Regions from separate parts of the Homo sapiens genome. Here regions 2 and 3 are each linked to region 1. The links come from fine-mapping of genetic effects on gene expression. A gene starts in region 1. Each other region holds a variant in brackets. All regions are shown on one strand. Distances are from middle to middle.

Region 1 (7,021 bases):
AATGACTAACAGCTACGCTTCCCTTCTGTCTTATTTCACGCCACTTACCTTTCTACCCAGGCAAACTATAAGCAACGCACGCATGAAACACAGATTCTCTGAGCATCTCCAGATCCGAGCTGTTCTTTGCATGCTTCCTGCCACACACTGTGCAGTAAACAATGACGGGCCTACAACAGCGCTTTCTTACATCTCACTATGACGTTTTCACATCGCTTACAGAATACAACCGTCATTAGCGCATTTCCAGTTTGCTCTAATTTATGCCAAACATCTTTGTTTTAAGCAGCACTTCCCCATACAACGCCTTCTAGCAACTTCGTAAGTGAGCACCCTCAAGTCCCGTGAGAAGTCTGGACTCACAGGGCCAGGGAAAAGCTTCCCCACCTCAACCCAGGTCTGTAACTCCACACCCTCCACACCACCCAACGCCTCTATCTACAACTCACACACGCGCACACACACACACACAAAGCGCACACACACACAGCACACACACAAACACACGCACACACAAACGCACACACATGCATACAAACACAAACACATACACAAAGACACACGCACACGTATGCACACACAAACTGCAGAGGAAAGGCAGCACACCAAAGCACCCAGAAGACAAATGTGGTTACATCTGGAAGTCAAGCATCAACTTTTAAAAACATAAAAAGCTATTCTGAATAACTTTTAACTTCACTTCACCCCCAACTGTCTACAACTAATGAATTACAAATAGCACCTTATACAAATGACTTTTCTTACTGCTGAGAAATCCTGGAGGTCTCATCTGTCTATAAAGAGTTATGCATCCGTAACTGCCGATGTTGGCTGCTAAAGCCAGCAAATAAATGCTGTGAGAGACAGACAGGGACAAAGTGTGTTTTTAAAAATACATGACGTGTAAACCTCAGTAATCATCTCTCTTTTCGAATAAAAATTATTTTCTATAAAGCAGGTGTTCAAAACATATTATTAATCAGCAACAGTGAAATTGTTCCTCCTTGCAGCATTCCACCCATATGGACATTAAGTCACTCCTGCACAGAATCTAGAATACTGACCAGTCCGTACTCAGGTTATGGTTAACCAGAGAAAAGAATTAAAACCCGTTACATCTTGAGTCAATGAGAATTTTTACTTGCAGCCAAAGTTAGTGACTGGAATCAATATCAGACAACAGCAAGTTCGTCTACTGCTGCCTGGGAACATGACCTACTGGCCACAGTCGGGAGGGGTACTCAGACCTCACCTTCAGTGCCCAGGGGCCCATGGAAGGGGAGTGGGGCTGGGACAGGTGGGCAGGGCGTCTGTGGACCTAGGGCAGTTTCCTCAGAATCTACCTTGGCTTCTTGGGCACCAGCGGGCTGTGGGGTGCAGGGGAACAGGTGGAGTACGGGGGGGACAGCTGGGGTGCGAGGGACAGCTGGGGTGCAGGGTAAACAGGTGAGGTGTAGGGGGACAGGTGAGGTGCAGAGGACAGGTGGGGATCAGGGGGACAGGTGGGGTGCAGGACAGTTGAGGTGCAGGGGACAGGTGGGGTTCAGGGAGAGAGGTGGGGTGCGAGGACAGGTGGGGTGCGGGGGAACAGGTGGGGTACGGGGAGACAGGTGGGGTGCGGGGGGACAGGTGGGGTGCAGGTGAACAGGTGGGGTGCGGGGGACAGGTGGGGTGCGGGGGGACAGGTGGGGTGCGGGGGGACAGGTGGGGTGCGGGGGGACAGGTGGAGTGCGGGGGGACAGGTGGGGTGCGGGGGGACAGGTGGGGTGCGGGGGGACAGGTGAGGTGCAGGGGGGACAGGTGGGGTGCGGGGGGACAGGTGGAGTGCGGGGGGACAGGTGGAGTGCGGGTGAACAGGTGGGGTGTGGGGGGACAGCTGGGGTGCAGAGTAAACAGGTGGGGTGTGGGGAGGACAGGTGGGGTGCGAGGGGACAGGTGGGGTGCGGGGAACTGGTGGAGTGCAGAGTTAACATGGGGTGCTGAGGGACAGGCGGGGTACACGGGGTGCGGGGAACTGGTGGGGTGTGGGGGGACAGCTGGGGTGCAGAGTAAACAGGTGGGGTGTGGGGAAGACAGGTGGGGTGCAGGGGGAACAGGTGGGGTGCGAGGGGACAGGTGGGGTGCAGAATAAACAGGTAGGGTGCGGGGGGACAGGCGGGGTGCGGGGGAATAGGTGGGGTGTGGGGGGGACAGCTGCGGCGCGGGGGACAGCTGGGGTGCAGGGTAAACAGGTGGGGTGCGGGGGGACAGCTGGGGTGCGGGGAACTGGTGGAGTGCAGAGTGAACAGGGGGTGCTGAGGGACAGGCGGGGTACACGGGGTGCGGGGAACTGGTGGGGTAGGGGGACAGGTAGGGTGCGGGGGAAAGACGCCGGCTTTCCTTACACCGGTCCTTCTCTGCATCCTGAGGCGGACCGCATTCTTCTCCTTTACCGGAAAATCTAAGTTACTGCACGACCCCCCAGGCGAAGCCAGCTCGCCCCTCGGGCTCCTTCCGCCGATCGGAGTTCGCTCCTGCCCCTGGGGCCAGGGGTCCCTGCTGCCAGTCCCTGCTCCCCCCGCCCAGGCCCGCGCCGTTATCCTGAGGGGCCGGGGGCGCCGCGGAAGGGGGAGCTGCTCGGGGGGAGGGGGTCTCAGCCCCTTCCCTGAAACATCTGCGCAGGGGGTCGGGGGCGCAGCCACCTCCGGGTGGGACCCAGCGATTTCGGGGGAGCCGGGCAGAAGTGCAACTCTCAAAGGAAACCAGAAGCCCGCGAGGGGACCCACGGTCCGCGGGGCCCGCACTCACCTCGGCGGCCAGGACGCGACCCGCAGTCCCCTGCTGTTCCCCGCCGTCCCCCGCTGTTCCCCGCCGTCCCCCGCTGTTCCCCGCCGTCCCCCGCCGTTCCCCGCCGTCCCCCGCGTCCCCCGCGTCCCCCGCGACCCCGTCCGTCCCGGATCGCGCGCCCGCCGGCTACAGGGATGCGCCCAGCCCCTCCCGCCCGGACGGCCTGCTCCACCCACCATGCTGTCATTGGCGGGCCCAGACCGTTCCGGGCGCCCATTGGCCGCAGAGCCTGCCGGTTTCTCGGCAGCGCCCTGCCCTCGCGCCCGCGCATTCCTTCGAGGCCACGTGGCCGCCCGCGCCCCCTCCCGCTGCCCAACGCCCGGCCCAGGCTGCGCACGCGTGGGAGGGGGCGCGCGGCAGAGGCTCCCGCCCCCGGATCATCTCCTGCCCCGCGGACCCCGGGCCGCGCTCACTTCGGGAGGGGTCGCTGGGCAGACCGAGTGCCCTCCCCGCCCCCAACATCTGGATCCTCCCCGCAGAGCCTGCTCCCGGCTCAGAGCTGCGCCCCTTGGGGAGGGTGCGCCGGGCAGACCCTAACCCTCTCCCAGAGCACCGCCCTTTCTGCGGACCCCCACGGGCTGAGCTCACCTGAGGGAGGGGGCGTCGGGCAGACGCTCCCCCCCCCAGAACATCGCCCCTCCCTGCGGACACCCGGGGTGCGCCCAGCCGAGGAGGGGGCGTCGGGACCCCACCCGACCCGCCCTTGAGCCCCCGTCCCTCCGTCCGCAGCTGGCCCTGCCCACAGGGCGTTCCGGGTCTTCCGCGCCAGCTGCCCTGGACCAGCCAAGGCTTGGGCGTTTGGAAATGCGATGACTTCAGCCACGTTTCCGAGGCAGTTTTTGAAGCTTGCTTCTTGCCAGGAAGCGCTCGTTTTTCCCGGGACCTTTCCAGGGAATGGCCCCTTCTGAGTTATTGGAATTGTTTACTTTGAGCATTTATTTGTCTTATACTTTTAAAAAGGAAACAGATTATCGTTATAATTACTATTAAAGAAAAAAAAAAACGAGAAACAAAGACATTTTTAACCAAAATAACTAAAGGATGTTATCTTTTACCTGGTCAGCACATTTAACAAGTGTGTTCGCAGATGCTAGATTTATTTCTATGCCTTCTCCTACCCAAATCTCCGAATCATAGAAGTAATTTTAAGTCAGTGTTTTAGAACTGTCAGACTTCTTAGAGATTTCTAGCCCCTTTCACTTGTTTTATAGAAGAAATACAAACAGCTATTTGGGATGCTAAGTATCACGAAATTAATCTAAACATTAACTGCCCTTAAGGCTTGTGTGCTCTGGAATAAGTTATTTCCCTGAAAATTTTGGACTATGTAAAAATCATAGCCAACATAGAAAGACTACAATGGCTGGAAAAAATAATCGTAGGTAAGGTGATATTTTTTCAATGTTTATTATTCACACTTGCTAATTTTATGAAATCAGACTGAGTTGTTTTTATGAATCAATTGAAAAAGGTATTTGCTCTCAGCGACCTTAAGATTAGAAAACTTATTTCAGGTTTCTATTCCTAGGGTTCTCTGGGTACCTTATTCAGAGATCTTCTGCACAGATCAATGGTCAGATCAATGGTCTTGATCAACAGAAGTAAGAAGGTCAACTAAATTAGTTCTTGTTTACCTAAATACGATGAGAAAATCCTGATACTTGTAGTGTTTTCTAAAAAGGTAGAGATAAGAGGAAATAGTCCTGTGTATGGAATAAACAACTCATTTTCTCAATGGATGAAATTGAGCCCCTAAACTCAGGGCCGCCAGGGACACCACTGAGTAGGGCCACAGAGCAATGCCTTCCAGGCAGGTTGGGCAGAAAATCCCCTGATTTGGAGCTCCAATAGATCCTGTCTGTCTGCTTTATTCAGGCGTTCCTCACAGATACATCCCTATTTTCGTAAGCCCGGATATGGAAGAGTTGGGATTTTCCATTGTGATTCCCTCTTTGACCCATGGGATATTTAGAAAAGTTAGGTTCACCTTTCAAATATATGGGGACTTTCTGGTTTTCTTTTTATTGTAACTAAAGTTTAATTCCACCGGGCCTTAAAACATCAGCTGTTTTATTTTTGTCGTTTAAGATTTTCAAACACTTGCTTCATGGCCCAACATTGTCTATTTTGGTAAATGTTCTATGAGCACTTGCTGAGAACATGCTTTCACTGACATAAAGTTCTACAGATGTCAATTAGGTCATATTTGTTACTGATTTTTTTATCTACTTGTACTTTTTATCTACTTGTACTTTTTATCTACTTGTACTGATAAGGGTGTATGAAAATCTTTGACTCTCCGTAGTCTATTCAGCATTGTCCTGCAGCATCTAACAAGTGTTGTAGGTCATAAAAACAAAAAGTGTAAGGATTGAGGGAGGAAAAACTGATTATTTACAGTCAATATGATTATATATGTTAAAAAACAAAATTATCTACAAATAAACTATTAGGATTAAAATAGAATTTAGGAATTTCAGATGGATCATAGACTTAAGTGTAAAAATTATAAAGTTGCTAGGATAAAATATAAGAAAAGATCTTACGGATCTTCAGGTAAGACAGAAAATGGACCGACCATTTAAAAATGATTAAATGGCTTATCAAAATTTAATATTTCTACTCATCTCATGACATCATTAAGAAAATGAAAAGGCAAGCCACAGACTGGGAGAACACAGGGGCAATGCATATATCCCACAAATGGCTTGTCTTAATCCACGTTGTGCTGCTGTAACAGAATACCTGGGAATGGGTGATTTACAATGAAAAGAAATTTATTTCTCACAGTTCTGGAGGCTGGGAAGTTCAAGATCAAGGAGCCACATCTGGCAAGAACCTTCGGGCTGCATCATCCCATGACGGAAGGTGGGAGGCGGAGGTGGGGAGGGAGGATGCAAAATGGGCCAAACTTATCTTTTTTTTTTTTTTTTTTGAGACGGAGTCTTGCTCTGTCATCAGGCTGGAGTGCAGTGGTGCGATCTCTGCTCACTGCAACCTCCGACTCCCTGGTTCAAGCTATTCTGCCTCAGCCTCCCGAGTAGCTGGGATTACAGGTATGTGCCACCACACCCAGCTAATTTTTGTATTTTTAGTAGAGACGAGGTTTCACCCAAACTCATTCTTTTATAAGGAGCCCACCGCCTCAGTCATGGCATTTATCCATCCATGAGGGTCATACCCCCATGACCCAGACACCACCTAGTAGGCACCTTCCAACACTGCTGCATTGGGGGTCAAGTTTCCAACACATAAACTTTGGGGAAAACGCGTTCAAACCATAGTCCTGGTAAATAGAGAACTCCTGCAAATGAACAATAACAAGACAAGTCTATTTCAAAAGGGACAAAACAATATAACAATAACAAGCCTGTAAATAACAATAACAAGTCTATTTAAAAATAAACAAAAGACGTAAATACTTCACCAAAGATGTACTGATAGCCAACAAGAACAGGAAATAGTGCTCAGTGTTACCCAAAGTAAACTCACAATGAGATGCCACCACCGTCATCCAAGCACGGCTGAAACTGCAGACCGACATGGCAAGGGTAAAAATGTGGAGCCCCTGGAACCACTATACAAGGCGATGAGAGTGCAAATGGCGCAACCACTCTGATTAATTGTTTGCCCATTTCTCAGCAATCCCACTTTTAGGTTTGCCCAAGGCAAGTGAAAACATAAGTCCCTTAAAAGACTTTTACAGCCAGACATGGTGACTCCCACCTGTAACCCCAGCACTTTAGGAGGCCAAGGTGGAGGATTGCTTGAGCCCAGGAGTCTAGCATGATAGTCTCCACCTCCAGTCCCAGCTACTTAGGAAGCTGAAGTGGGAGGATCGCTTGAGGCTGGGAGGTCAAGGCTGTAATGAGTCATGTTCACCACCACTGCACTCTAGCCTGGGTGGACAGAGCAAGACCCTGTCTCAAAAAAAAAAAATGATTTTTACAAGAATTCTTTCTTCAAAACAGTTCAAATACTTCGCAACTGGAAACAACCCAAATTCCATCAACAGGTGAACTCATAAAGTATTGTATCTTCATAGAATAATAGAATACTAATAATACAGTAATAAAAAGGAAGAAACTGATATGTTCAATAACAATGAATCTTGAAAACATGAAAAACATAGACAAAAGGGCACATATAGTATGATTCAATTTTTATGAAATTCAAGAATGTGCCAAACCAACCT
Region 2 (7,021 bases), 82 kb before region 1:
TCTACTAAAAATATTTAAAAAATTAGCTGGGTGTGGTGGTGGGTGCCTGTAGTCCCAGCTACTAGGGAGGCTGAGGCAGGAGAATGGCGTGAACCCGGGAGGCAGAGCTTGCAGCGAGCTGAGATCGAGCCACAGCACTCCAGCCTGGGTGACAGAGCGAGACTCTTTCTCAAAAAAAAAAAAAAAAAAAAATCAAAGTGTGGGTAGAAATAACCAAAATGCCGGGTGCTATGCATTGGACTGAGCACCTGACTGGCTGGGAGCCCGTCTGCACCCAAGCTCTCCAGTTCCTTCTTACACCAGAGCACTCTGCCCTCCATGAGGACATCCAGTCCATACAGGAAGGGAAAGGAGGAAGAACAATTCAGACACAGTAAGAGGAAAGATGGGTTGTGTTCCGTGAATTAGACTGTGCCTCCAATTTAGAAAAACAGAAATGCCCATGAGTTCTTACCAAAATTCCGATTCCTCCTCTTTGAATGTAAAAATCTCCATCCCTACAGAGGAGGTTTAGAATCTTAATGTTCACAGGGCCGACCAAAGGGTCCTTGGGAGCTATTTGAAACAAAATGCATTCTCATCTCATCACCTTCGGGCACTGTCGCTGAAAATCTCACACTGACAACATGTCCATGGGAAAGGAATTGCGACTCACCACTGCACTTCGCAAAAAAAGAAATTCAAGCCCTGGCATCGTGGGAAAGGCAGGGGCGTTATTTTAAGGAATCCTCTAGCAGTAAGCACAGCTGAGTTACTTTTAAAGTATCCATTTTAATTCATCTTTAAAGTACACCACGTCTGGCAGCGGGAGAATTTTAAACGTACTTAAAACTGCCCAAGAGTCAAGTGTGTCCTGGCGCTCCCCAACAGCAGCCTGAGGGGTTCTGGAGCAGCAGTCAGTGTCAGACAAACATCAGTGATGAATGCGGAAAAGACTCAACAAGGACCATTATATTTGCTTAGGACTTTGCCGTTTACAAGGTCATTTCACTTCTATGATCTTGTCTCCCAGGGCAGGTGGAACAAGCATTAATGTCCCCAACTTGACACATCGTGTGGGCCAACTTGCAGGTGAGGAGCTGGGTGGATTCAGCCACAGTGGGGCCACTTCACTGAAAACTAACTTTCCAGGTGTTACATGGAGAGGGGGGTTCTGGGACAGTTAAACTTGGAAGCCATACTGTTAAGTGATAAACACCTTTAGTCTCCACACTATGGGAAGCACCTCATAACACCAGGGAAACGGGTGGAGACACCTTACTCTGCATCCTCGCAATTCTAAGCATCCTCTAGAGCAGCCCACACCTGGAGTTCTCCAGCTGCGACCTCCCACGGCCTCACTCCGTCAGCTCCTCTCCAACGCAGGGTGCAGTGGGCTTCACTTCTGCACACAGAAGGCAGGTGGCCTGCGGCTGTCGCCAGGCGTCCACAGTGAAGGCCAAGCCATGGGGTATGAGTCAAATGAACAGGGTTCTTTCTCTTACAAGAAGGAGTGTCATTAAAGACTCACATATTTTTTGGACTTATTTTGTAGCTGCCACAAAGTCACTGACGATGATGAAAAGCAACAATGAAAACCTGTCCCTCGCAGGCAGTGCCGTGTGCCAGGTGCCCTGCAGCAGCTTAATGAACGTTCTCGCCTTGATCCCTGAAGAGACCCGCAAGAGCGTACCACTGGCATTATTTTTATGATCAACCCTATTGCACGGATGAGGAGTCCGAGGCAAAGTCAGAGAGGGTAATTTTCAGAGTTCAGAGAAGGTGGATGTGCAGTTCACACTAAGGAGTCCGACTCCTGAGCGCTGACCTGCACACCCTCGCTGCCTGGGTCTCTAAGGCAAGGTGAGGAGGGCAGGCAGATATATCTGGCCGCTGGAAAATGGGGGCGACGGGCATGAAAAATAGGGCATGTTTAGTGGTGTGCTGGCAAACGTTTAACAGCTGGCTCTCACTGGGAGGACAGGCTCCTAACACATCGTGTTGGGCAAATTCCATGCTGTAAATGTTCCCGTGTGGATGACTTCAAGCTACCAAATGTTTAGCAACTGGATCTCAAAACTCTGGAAGATTCAACACTTGACTCTTGCAAGACATGACGAATTGGCACCACGTTCGCTTGCATTATTTTCTACAGCACCAGGAGTGTTATAGTTAACTTTATATCAGTTCCCTTATCATCTACCTGTATTTGAAGACCTTTTAGTTTCTCACATATCCTCATCTCACTACAATATTCCATGCATTGGAGAACGATTCTGATGTAAAACTATTTTAAGTGAAAATAACTCATTTTCTTGGTTTACAATAAATATGAATATACCCAACTTTATTATATTTAAACATTTATCAAAAATATATTTATAGAGAAGCAGGTAAAGAGAGAATTTAAACCATAAGAAAAAGAACTCTTGATTTAGGAGGGTTATGAAGAAATTCAATTGAGTTTCTAGTTCCGCCATCAGCCCTGTTTAAAGAGTATATAAACCTCTACGTACTTCTACTAACAGTGACTTGGTGACTTACACTGAATCTATTTAAAAATAAGCTTGCTTATTATAAGGGTTCCCTTAGTCACAGGACAGAGCTTTGGCACAAAAAACCAGTTCAGTCTGAGTGACAGAATTAACAAAGTCATGCATGTGCCCTTAGGCAAAGGTAACATGTGATGATGGTAGGACTACTATAGAGAATTTATGCACTTACCGTGAGCTGACGGTGGCACACATTAACACATCATTTAACATGAAGACTCGGCGTTCTTTGGTTTTAACAATCTCTCCTCTGTCGTTGTAAACTGTTTCTATCATATCATCTGATCGAATGAGGTATCGGCTTCCACTGCTGAGAAGCTGGACATTCAAAACACAGCCCAGGGACCACAGTTCAGTTTACCCGGAAAAGAAAAAGATGAGGAGAAGTCTGGTATGGAGTCTCAGGGTGACTTTTCCAAACTGAGCGCTTTACGGAAATCGTTCCTATGTTCCCCGTGACTGCGCTGAACATCCGCCTCCTTCCTCACAGACTTTCACCGCAGTTGGCCCTCCCGCGATTTAAACACTACATTAACCAGGAACGGTGAGGAATGCAAGGAATTGTTTTGTAATTTTACTTTTCCCCAAGTAAACCTAATTAAGCATAGTTAAATGACTATCTTAACTTCTTAAAGGTAGGCCATATTTTACTTCACTGAGCCAAAGCAAAACCATCAGTTCTTCAGAAAGACGCTTTGTATGAACCAAGACAATGGTATGCGATGTAGAAGTCACACTACCTTTTTTGTTTGTTTGTTCTGAGACCAAGCCTCGCTCTGTTACCCAGGCTGGAGTGCAGCCGCACAATCTCAACTCACTGCAACCTCCACCTCCTGGGTTCAATTGATTCTCGTGCCTCAGCCTCTCGAGTAGCTGGGACCACAGGTGTGCACCACCACACCCAGCTAATTTGTTTCTTTTTGTATTTTTAGTAGAGACGGGGTTTTGTCATGTTGGTTAGGCTGGTCCGGAACTCCTGACCTCACGTGATCCACCCACCTCGGCCTCCCAAAGAGCTGGGATTACAGGCGTGAGCCACTGCACCCGGCCAATACTTAT[A/TA]ACAACTCAGCCCACAAGAAAAACAGAGTCCTCAGCCCCGGTGGTCTGTGCTGTCTTTTGATTCTAAACCTACGCTGCTGCCCAGCTCTGAGCAACCAGCGAGACACCCGCCTCCCTGAATGTCCCTGCCAAGTGCACGGGAACGATGAGGCATGTGGGTGACATTCAGTGCGAAGCATCATCCCCTCTTCCTGGGCCTCTGGGCTTGCTCCGTGCCCCATGTGTATTCGGAGGTTCAAGTGCCACAGGGAGCATGATTTTAAATAACATGAACCATGTCAAGAATATAACTGAATACAATTTGCTGCTTATAAACGTTCCTACATAAACCACTTGGAGAAATGGGGAAAATATGTGGCTTAAAGTGTATTACCATAAAGTTCGCACAGTTACATTACTGAATGTCATTGTAACGTAAGAAACTACTCCTAATGACAAAACAATGATTTGTAGCAATAATGATTTTTAGCAATAATGAATATTAGATGCAATAACTTAACACAGTTCATACAAATTACCATCTCCCTGTGAGCCAGGGCCTTCAGTGAATACGGGAAAGCCCACATAAATTCAGAGTACTGCTGCAGACAAGTAGTTATGTAAGCATCAAGCTGAAATGTAGCCTGGCAAATGAACTGCCGCCTTCTGGGTCCTGCATCTCTTTTCACGCTCAATGCAGCTTAGCCCATGCATAGGTGAAGACAAAAAATGTTTGTGAATTTTTTTTTTTTTTGAAACAGGGTTTTGCTCCATCACCCAGGCTAGAGTGCAGCACCTCAATAACAGCTCACCACAGCCTGGACCTCCCAGGCTCGAGCAATCCTCTGGCCTCAGCCTCCCACGTAGCTCAGACTATATAGGTGCATGCCACTGTGCCCAGCTATTTTTTTTTTCTTTTTTTAGATATGGGTTCTCACTATCATGCCCAGGCTGGTCTTGAACTCCTGGGTTCCAGCGATCTTCCCACCTCAGCCTCCCAAAGTGCTGGGCTTACAGGTGTGAGCCACTGTGCCTAGCCTGTAAATATTTTCAGCTTTAACTATTACTATCTGAAATTAAATACCGTTATTTTGAAAGGAAAAGTAAGCTAAAGGAGTTGCTCTTAACCCCTTGGGAGGTCCTGGATCCATTTGAGGGTCTAATGAATGTATGAATCTCTTTCCTAAGAAAATGCTGTTAAGACAGGCTGTTAAGGTTTTACATACAATTTCCACATTGGTGTGACTCTCCCGAAGGCCTCCATCCACCCCGGTTAAGAACTCTGGGCGAAGGGAATTACTCCAAACGATCCAAAAGATTAGTATTGCTGGACAACGACAGCTTATTAGCACAAAGCAAAAATAATTTTGGAATAGAGTTGAAGAAAACCTCTCTCAACCTTGTTCAGGTATCTTTCGTTTATGGCTTTGGCTATTTGCTTCACTTCACAGCGTTGATCAGCATCTCTCTTTCTTTCATTTAACTTCTCTGCTAGTGTTTCGAGCTCTGTCAGGGCCATCTGAAGAGGCAGCCTGTCGGGGTGGCCTTTGGAGGTGTTCTTCAGCATGTCCTACAAGCAACAGGGGAGAGGTGGGCAGTTACCACGTGGACACTCCCAGTGCAACAACAGTCGCGTCACCCGCCAGCTGACAATGGAAAGGAGGCAGTGGCATCTGCCATCCTGGGGAAAAATAAAGTCAGTTCTTGGGAAGGGATGATGAGCTGAGTGAGTCACGACTTGGCTGAACATCTGAACAGCTTCCTTTGCAAAAACAAAATTGAAAAAATAGCACTGTACAATAAAGGACACGCTAAATATGAACATATCACAATCTCAGAAATACTGTGCACTTGGAACGATGCTCACGATGATGATAGATTCTCCTTCTCAAGTTGAGTCAGACAGATGAACCCATGCACAGATGGGTCCAGCTACTTTCTTCAAAACACCAGTCTCCCAGTTTCCAATGTGCAGGAGTACTGTGGTGCCGAATACTGCACCCATGGTGTCAACTCACACAGCAGGATCGAGTCTCTCTCACAGTGACAAAGGAACCTGATTTTAGGGCGGCAAAGATGCATGACACTATCGTGGTGGGTCCATGTCACTAAACGTTCATCCGAACCCACCGAATGCACAGCACAAGGGTACGCCCTCCTGCGACTGTGGCCGCTGGGCAGTGGCTGCGTGGCCACGCAGGCTCCTGGTTGTCACAAATGCACTCTGGTGGAGATGTGGGGGGAGGGGGCTATGCATGTTAGGGGAGGGGTAGATGGGAAACCTCTGTACTTTCCGCTCAATTTTGCTGCGACCCTAAAATTTCTCTTAAAAAGTAGTCTTTAAAAAAAGGGAGTTGAGCTACCTCTTCTCCCAGTTAAGGTTTCAGACAAGCACGAGGAGGTCAAAGGGAGGGTATGTGGCACAAATCAACAACAACAGCCAGCAAAAAATGACGCACTGCTGCCAATCACAGGATAAACGTTAACAGGCAGTAACAAAAGGACATTTCTGTCACCTTGGTTTTATGCAGGGCCTTTTGTTTCCCAGCTTTCGTTCACATTCGACACGCTGACGTTTGCTGAAGGGGCAAACGTGAACTTGAAACACTCTTTCTCAGAATTAAATGTGGTTCTGCAATGAGATCACATGGACACAGGGAGGGGCGCATCACACACCGGGGCCTGTTGCGGGGCGGGGGGTGAGGGGAGGGAGAGCATTAAGACAAATACCTAATGCACGCGGGGCTTAAAACCTAGATGACGGGTTGCTAGGTGCAGCAGCCCACCATGGCACAGGTATACCTATGGAACAAACCTGCACATTCTGCACACATATCCCAGAACTTAGAGTGAGAAAAAAAAATGTGGTTCTGCGTCTTGCCTACCATCTTTGACATGTTTATAGGAATATTAGTAGTCATGGAATTCAACAGCGTGCTTATCTTTTTAAACCTTTTTTTAAAATCTGGAAAGGACATTGCATAAATGATTAAATGTTTCCAGTTTGTAATGAATATAAACTATTCTATACATTTGTTTTCCTATGAGTCACAACGAATTCTATCAAGGCAAAAAAGAACAATCTTAACACTAGTTCTGCACCAAACCCACACACTGGTGGTGGCACCGGGGACTAGGCGTGCGATGGAGACAGCAGCCAGCACAGGGTGGAGTCCGACATGCCGTGGGGCCACTGAGCACAGCCGGGGGCATCCGCCGGGCTGGCAGCCACCCAAGGAGGCTCAGGGAAGGAGAAAAGTGAAGTTTCTCGCTGCTGTTATTATCAGAAATTGTTACTTATCTTTGCACAACAACGGAGAGAAATAGGTAGCTGGGATAAAGACAAATGTCACAGGGCCAATGGATGTTTCTGGATCCATGGGAGAAACTGACAGTACCAGCATAGCCAGGGTGAGCCGGTTTCACTGCCTGAGCCAGGGGACAGCTGTGGC
Region 3 (7,021 bases), 31 kb before region 1:
GTGGGTGCAGGGGCTTCACTGGCTCCAGCACCTCCTGTCTCAGGGGCGGATGGGGCCTGTCTGTCCGCTTCTGGGATTTCATCTCCACTGTCAAAATCGAACTGTTCTCCCTCTTCCTCTTCATTATTATTGGTATCATATTTCATTTCATTTTCTAAAAAGAAAAACCAAAACCACATCAAGGAGAGATAGATAGATAGATAGATAGATAGATAGATAGATAGATAGATAGATCGATCGATCTATGTTAGCCAGAGACACTGACTAAGTTCCTCTGTGCTGTACTGCGCTTGTAGTTAACCTTTTTAAGGGGCAAAATAAGTATCATTAGAATTCTGAGTCACTGGTTTTTATTTTCTTTTAATAGGATCTACAACTCACAGAGAAGAAACAAGAGGCTGGGGGTGGTAGCTCACATCTGTAATCCCAGCACTTTGGGAGGCCAAGGTGGGCAGATCACAAGGTAAGAAGCTTGAGACCAGCCTGGCCAACATGGTGAAACCCCATCTCTACTAAAAATAAAAAAATTAGCCAGGCGTGTTGGCGGGCACCTGTAATCCCAGCTTCTCAGGAAGGTGGGGCAGGAGAATGGCTTGAACCCGAGAGGCGGAGGTTGCAGTGAACCGAGATTGCACCATTGCACTCCAGCCTGGGTGACAGGGCAAAACTCTGTCTCAAAAAAAAAAAAAAAGAAAAGAAAACAAGAGAAAGTAAGGGGAAAAAAGAGCTTTTCACATTTTAAATCTGTGCACCCAGCAGATGAACATCACCCGGCTGGGCTGATGGTCTGGAAGAGAATTCAGTATCATCCACTTTACTTTTAGAAATAACTTCTGACACCTTGCATCTCTCCCTAGAATTCTTCTCCTTTTATTTTCATTTTGCCTCTCTTATTTACAATTTTAATTAAATATCTCTGATGGTTAGAAAATCAGTGTCAAATATGAACACCGATATATAGCTTAAAATACAAACCTCCATAATTATTAAAGAGCATGGTTAATAACTGTTCCAAGTAAGTGCTTGATAAGAAACATTTTGCAGGAGGCGAGTCACAGGTCTCCTTGGACCGGGGTTACGGCTGATGGCGCAGCCTGCCGTGTGCATCATTTGCAGAGACGGCGTGCTAGGACTGTGTGCCACCATCAGAGCAGACAGGTGCTTCTCCTTTTTCCAGAGGAGACCCATGTGCTGGGACAACACCACCCGGCACACCCAGGAGCGAGAGGAACCCAGCCCCTGCCAGCCTTTCCCAAGGGCTGGGATTTCTTCCCAGCACACGTTCCTGAGGAAACCTCCTGCTGCCATGCCCGGCAATCCACAGAAGCAGGTGGCACCTCGGGACAGAGCCTGGGTCAGCCCAAACCAAGCCCCTCCAACACAGACAATCCCCCGTGGGCCAGGGAGATGCACCCAAGCAGGACGGCCCAGCTCGGCTGCAGGCAGCTCCGGAGGGGGCTGAGGGGGAGCCCTGCTAGGGAGCAACCCACAGACACACAACCCACTTACACTCCACGCAGTCTCCAGGCGCTCTCTGCCGAGCCTCCTGGGGAAGTCGCCTCCCGGGGAACTCTAGCGGTCTAAAAACAACCTTTAAATTTGAGGTGTTTCATTTTCCTTTGAATCTCCTAAACTAGTCATACATTCTAGGAGTGCCTTTTGAAGGAAACAGATTTTTAGGTCACCACAAATACACAGAGGGGCCCAGGCCCACGACAGCGTGAACTGGATCCAGCTACCACTGCAAGGACGGTGGGGATGAGACCCCCAGCTGACCATGACACCTGGGGACCCCACGAGCTTTCTGGAACTGCTTCCACCAACACTCACGAGTTTTACAAGTATGAGAATGACAAATACTAAAATTGAATCAAGAAAAAGGATTCAGAAATGTGTTATTTTTAAAACATACGTCTGATAGGAGTGTGTGTTGCTGTCCTTCTGGATGGTGAACTCTGCTCTGCCCAGATACCAAAGCCTCACCCACTTCCTAGAGGGTCAAAGACTTCTCTAAATTCAAAGTTTTGAATTTAAGCCTAATCAAATGAAACAATCGAAGCAGGGGGAGAGCTGGAATGGACAGAACCGCTAATTTCCAGAGTTTGAGCCTTGTTAACTATGTACTTTCAAACCAGTCCTCACTGTCTCCCAAGCGACCGTAAACAAAACCTATTTCAGAAGGGGTTTTTTTTTTTGCCATATCATTAAGTAGTCAGTTTATGGAAATGAACTGGTGAATACCTTTTAAAGTAAAAAGTTAAACAAACAAAAAAACTGTTTTCTGGAATATTTTCCAAATGCAACTGTCATTTCCACAGAATTCACGTTTGGGGAGAAAAAATCATGTTTGCCAAATAAACGTGCTGCGGAAACAATGCCGACTAAATGCCGTGACGAAAATGATCAGTGAAAATGTTTATGTATTGCTGGGCGCAGGGGCTCACACGTGTAATCCCAGCACTTTCAAAGGCCAAGGAGGACTAATTGCTTGAGCCCAGGAATTTGAGACCAGCCTGGACAACATAGTGAAACCCCGTCTCTTAAAAAAAAAAAAAGGTACAAAAATTAGCCTGGGGTGAAGGCGTGGACCTGTGGTCCCACCTACTCCGAAGGCTGAGGTGGGAGGATCACCTGAACCCAGTAAGCGGAAGTTGCAGTGAGCTGAGATTGCGCCACCGCACTGCAGCCTGGGGGACAGAGCAACACCTTGTCCCCCACCCCAAAAAAAGTTTCTGTTCTGACCACCCCAAAAAAAGTCACTGCCAGGCACATGTTCAGATTCATCCAGACGGTGACACAATCACACTAGATTTTTATATTGTCAACTCTCTTTTTTGGAAATTATAGTTTACTACCGCTGAACTCAAACAATTAGATAAAATACACCTAGACATGAGTCTATAAATATTGTTTTTTAAAAAAGCTTGACAATGTCTGGTACAAAATAGGCTCTCAAATATCTGCAAGGGGAGAAACATGAGCTGTTGGGACCGGAACCCACACTGTACCCCATACAGGAAGAAGGAATTCTCTTTAAAGTCTTCAGGAAGGAAGGCCGTGAACAGGAGCCCGTGTGTGCAGGAAACAGCCCTGAGGAGACACCGAGGCCCCTCCACTCCCTCCCCATACGCCACCTCCTGGGCTGTGACACCAGCCCCGGGAGACCGGTGGGATTACCTGGGACAGTGCATGTCCCGTGTGCCAGGTACAGGTATGACCCTGAGAAGAACCGCATGCGTTCTCGGAGCCGGCACCTCTGCTCACCGCCCAGCAAGGTGCAGTGGGAAACCTGGTTGGCGGCAATGTGTGACACGCACATCATGTGAGCGAATGAATGAGAGAATGACGAGCAGATGAGCAAGCTTCAAACTGTTTTTTGCCAAAATAACTCACTTTTTCCCCTAGTAAAATTTAAGTAGAATTCTACTATACAAGGGAAATCAAAGCAATCAAGAAATTCCTCCAAAAGTTTAAATCTTGTTAGTTTAGACTTGGAGGGGCTTGGAAGGGGCTTGGGGCTTGGAATTCAAGAGCTCTCTGCTGTCATTGAAA[G/AG]ACTGGCAGACACTGGCGGAGCTGCCCTCCATCCTCTGCAAACACTGCAGGGAAAGACTTTCAAGTTATATAGACTCTGCAGAATGATGTGTGTTACAAATTCCTCTCAGAATTCAGTTCCAGTAAGAAAAAAATAGCCTTTCTACAAGAACTCAAAGAAGTTGTGCTCAATGTAACCACCTGAGGCTGCACCCCTGCCTGCATGGGTGCCCACAGCTGTGCCCACGGCGGGCGCCCAGGACAGAGGGCGAGGCCGCCTGGAGCTGGGCTGCTCCTCTGACCCCCACCTCCAAGGGGGCCTCCATCGATGGTGAGGCTGCGCCGCCCTCTGAGGTGAGCATGGGGCCGGGCGTTCAAGGTGGTGTGTGCTGAGCATGTCCATCCCAGACACTGCCCTGGGCCCTGGGGGATCCTGGGCATCACAGACCCCACCCGAGCTCCCCAGGTCCCTTAGTGAAGTGCAATGCAGAATGCCTTTAAAAATCCCAGCATTTGGGGTCCTAAGTTTAGTTCTGACACCAGCCCTGACAGGTTCAATTGTGTCCCCTAAATCCCTGTGCTGAAATCCTCACCCCCAGTCTGCTGGTGAGCTCGTCTGCAAACAGGTGACTGCAGGTGCAATTGGTTTACAGGAGGCTGTGCTAGAGCAGGCTCGGCTAACCCAGTGTGGCAGTGTCCTCATGACAGCAGAGGCCAGCACAGGGACGAGGAGCCACCTGGCAGTGCAGCTGCAGGAACTCCCGGGAGTGCCCACAGCCGGCGGGCGCTGGAAGAGGCAAGGAAGGCTGTGACCTACATTCCCGGGGAGCACACACAGCCTGCCAGCACCCTGACCTGGGACTTCCGGCCTGCAACCCAGGAGGCTCCCCCGCAAGCTCGGCCAAGCCCTTTCCAACACAAAAGGTCCTGTGCCATCCTCAGGGCCCTGGCGGGAGCCAGGCAAGCTGGGCTGGGTCGGTTCCCACAACACTCCTGCTGCAGCCACAGAAGGAATTCCCGCTTCTCAAAACCCCAGCTTCAGAACCCAGCCATTCAGCTGAAGGAGAACACTGATGAGAAAAACTACAATTTGCAAACTAGAAAAGATGCTCAAGGGCTGCTGAAAGCATCTCAGGAGATACAACGTGTTGTAGTTTGAGACGACATGGATCTTTCAAAAAGCTGTTGGGGAATCTGCAGTGTAGCCGTCATTCGCTGGACACACCATGGCCCAGTGTTCTCCGCCCGTTGGTCCCTGTGGAGCCCAGGAGGTGGGCGGGAAGGGCCCGGCGCTCTGGGTAGGCAGCTGGCAGGGAAGCAGGGAAGGGCGGCCTGGGCAGGGCTGCACCTAGGGAGAGGCTCTGTGCCCCTCCTGCCCACTCAGGACGGCAGGTTCTGAGAGTCACCCATGAAGGCCATGACACGGAGGAGGAAACACAGACGGCAGTGCAGCCCGTGCCGACCCACAGGCATCCAGCCCAAATCTAACCACCCGCCAGTGCCCGGCCCAAATCTAACCACCCGCCAGCGCCCGGCCCAAATCTAACCTGGGGACCATTCTTCCCCTGCCCCTCTCCTCTGGCCTGCCCAGGACAGGCTGCCCTCTGGCCACAGCTGCACTTCCCAGGAAAACTGCAGGCTCTGCTGCATTCAGGGGCCAGCCCTTGTGGGTCACCGGCAGCTTGACACGACACCCCTAATGCTGACCGACAGCAGCAGCCATTTAAGCCTCAGGATTCAGACTGTTTCCGTCACAGCAGGGCCATTGGGGCTGCCTTGGTGGCACTGACTTCTTACCAACCTGACTTTTTACACTTGTGAGTATGCAGGTAATTGGCTCATCAATTAAGGCACACATTTCTAAAACAAGTTATGAAATAGAAAACTTTAAGAAACATTACGTTTCCAATCATTATGACATAATATGACCATGCCCATTTTAAGTTATGCCTATATGCAAAAAAGGGCGAGGAAGTTACCTGACAATCCAATCTTCGAAATGCTGCTGCTAGAAAAGGTGCTGCTCCCGGGTTCTCTCCAGGATGATGGAGAGGTTCTAGAGGGCCCTCAGGACAGAAACGGTGCTGCTCCCCGGTCCTCTCCAGGATGATGGAGAGGTTCTAGAGGGCCCTCAGGACAGAAACGGTGCTGCTCCCCGGTCCTCTCCAGGATGATGGAGAGGTTCTAGAGGGCCCTCAGGACAGAAACGGTGCTGCTCCCCGGTCCTCTCCAGGATGATGGAGAGGTTCTAGAGGGCCCTCAGGACAGAAACGGTGCTGCTCCCCGGTCCTCTCCAGGATGATGGAGAGGTTCTAGAGGGCCCTCAGGACAGAAACGGTGCTGCTCCCCGGTCCTCTCCAGGATGATGGAGAGGTTCTAGAGGGCCCGCAGGACAGCTCAAGTCACACATGGCTATTGCACTTGGGGTGGCCAGTGTGACCAAGAGCCTCAGTTGTTGTTGTTATTTAATTCTTATCAATTCTAAGTTTTGTAGACACCTGAGCCTAGTGGACCTCGCAGGCCTGAATCTCGAGCTATCAAGACGGCTAACGGCCTGTCTGAGCCTGAGAGCCGTCCCCACACCCACAGGGCCCCTCTGCTTGTGTCTGTCTTCATATGGTCTGCAGCAGAGATTCATTTCCATTTGGTTATTAATTTTTTTTTTTTTTGAGACAGAGTCATGCTCTGTTGCCCGCGCTGGAGTGCAGTATTGCGATCGCAGCTTACTGCAGCCTTGACCTCCTGGGCTCAAGCAATCCTCCCACCTCAGCCTCCCAAGCAGCCAGGACTACAGGCATGAGCCACCACGCCTGGCTAAGTTTTATTATTTTTAATAGAGACGAGGTGGCACTATGTTGCCCAGGCTGGTCTCAAACTCCTGAACTCAAGTGATCCTCCTGCCTCGGCCTCCCAAAGTGCTGGGATTACAGGCAAGAGCCAACGTGCCCACCCCAGTTTGGTTGCTTTTAAGAGATACAACTTTTTAGAGCAGTTTTAGGTTCACAGGAAAATTGAGAGGAAGGTACAGAGAGTTCTCATATACTCCCCACCCCCAAAGAGAGCCTCCCCCAACACTATCCCCCATCCTTTGCCAGAGTGGAACACTTGTTGCAACTGAGAAGCCAACACTGAGGTACGTCACTAACTAAAGCCCACGGTGTGTGTTAGGCCTCGCTCCTGGTGCTGTGCCTTCTGTGTGAGGAGCCAACAATGAGGTATGTCACTAACTAAAGCCCACGGTGTGCGTGAGGCCTCGCTCCTGGTGCTGTGCCTTCTGTGTGAGGAGCCAACACTGAGGTACGTCGCTAACTAAAGCCCACGGTGTGCGTGAGGCCTCGCTCCTGGTGCTGTGCCTTCTATGGGTTTGGACAGGCGTGTAATGATGTTGAGGTACGTCGCTAACTAAAGCCCACGGTGTGCGTGAGGCCTCGCTCCTGGTGCTGTGCCTTCTATGGGTTTGGACAGGCGTGTAATGACATGGATGCACCAT

Alleles and levels. Positions count from the first base shown, and alleles are read on the strand shown. Sizes are in standard deviations (SD) of each study's normalised expression. Not every link is listed here.
In carriers of allele A in region 2, the expression in fibroblasts of the gene that starts at base 2,975 in region 1 tends to be lower than with TA alone (small effect, 0.37 SD a copy in GTEx).

Evidence for each region.
Region 2: its variant is fine-mapped to the expression of ARHGEF10 in fibroblasts (GTEx, PIP 0.97).
Region 3: its variant is fine-mapped to the expression of ARHGEF10 in whole blood (TOPMed, PIP above 0.99).

Annotation. Positions count from the first base shown.
Region 1 is chr8:1,819,880-1,826,900 of GRCh38, reverse strand. It overlaps ARHGEF10 (Rho guanine nucleotide exchange factor 10), which reads right to left and starts at 2,975. Exons shown (of 29, transcript NM_014629.4): 1 at 2,788-2,975.
Region 2 is chr8:1,901,399-1,908,419 of GRCh38, reverse strand. ARHGEF10 (Rho guanine nucleotide exchange factor 10) reads right to left here. Exons shown (of 29, transcript NM_014629.4): 16 at 4,969-5,139; 17 at 2,704-2,849. Among named protein-coding and RNA genes, the nearest start is that of KBTBD11-OT1, 66 kb to the left of the region's middle. RefSeq lists an enhancer at 945-2,144. The variant A/TA (reference allele first, on the strand shown) is at 3,591.
Region 3 is chr8:1,851,093-1,858,113 of GRCh38, reverse strand. It overlaps ARHGEF10 (Rho guanine nucleotide exchange factor 10), which reads right to left. Exons shown (of 29, transcript NM_014629.4): 3 at 1-154. Among named protein-coding and RNA genes, the nearest start is that of ARHGEF10, 31 kb to the right of the region's middle. The variant G/AG (reference allele first, on the strand shown) is at 3,553.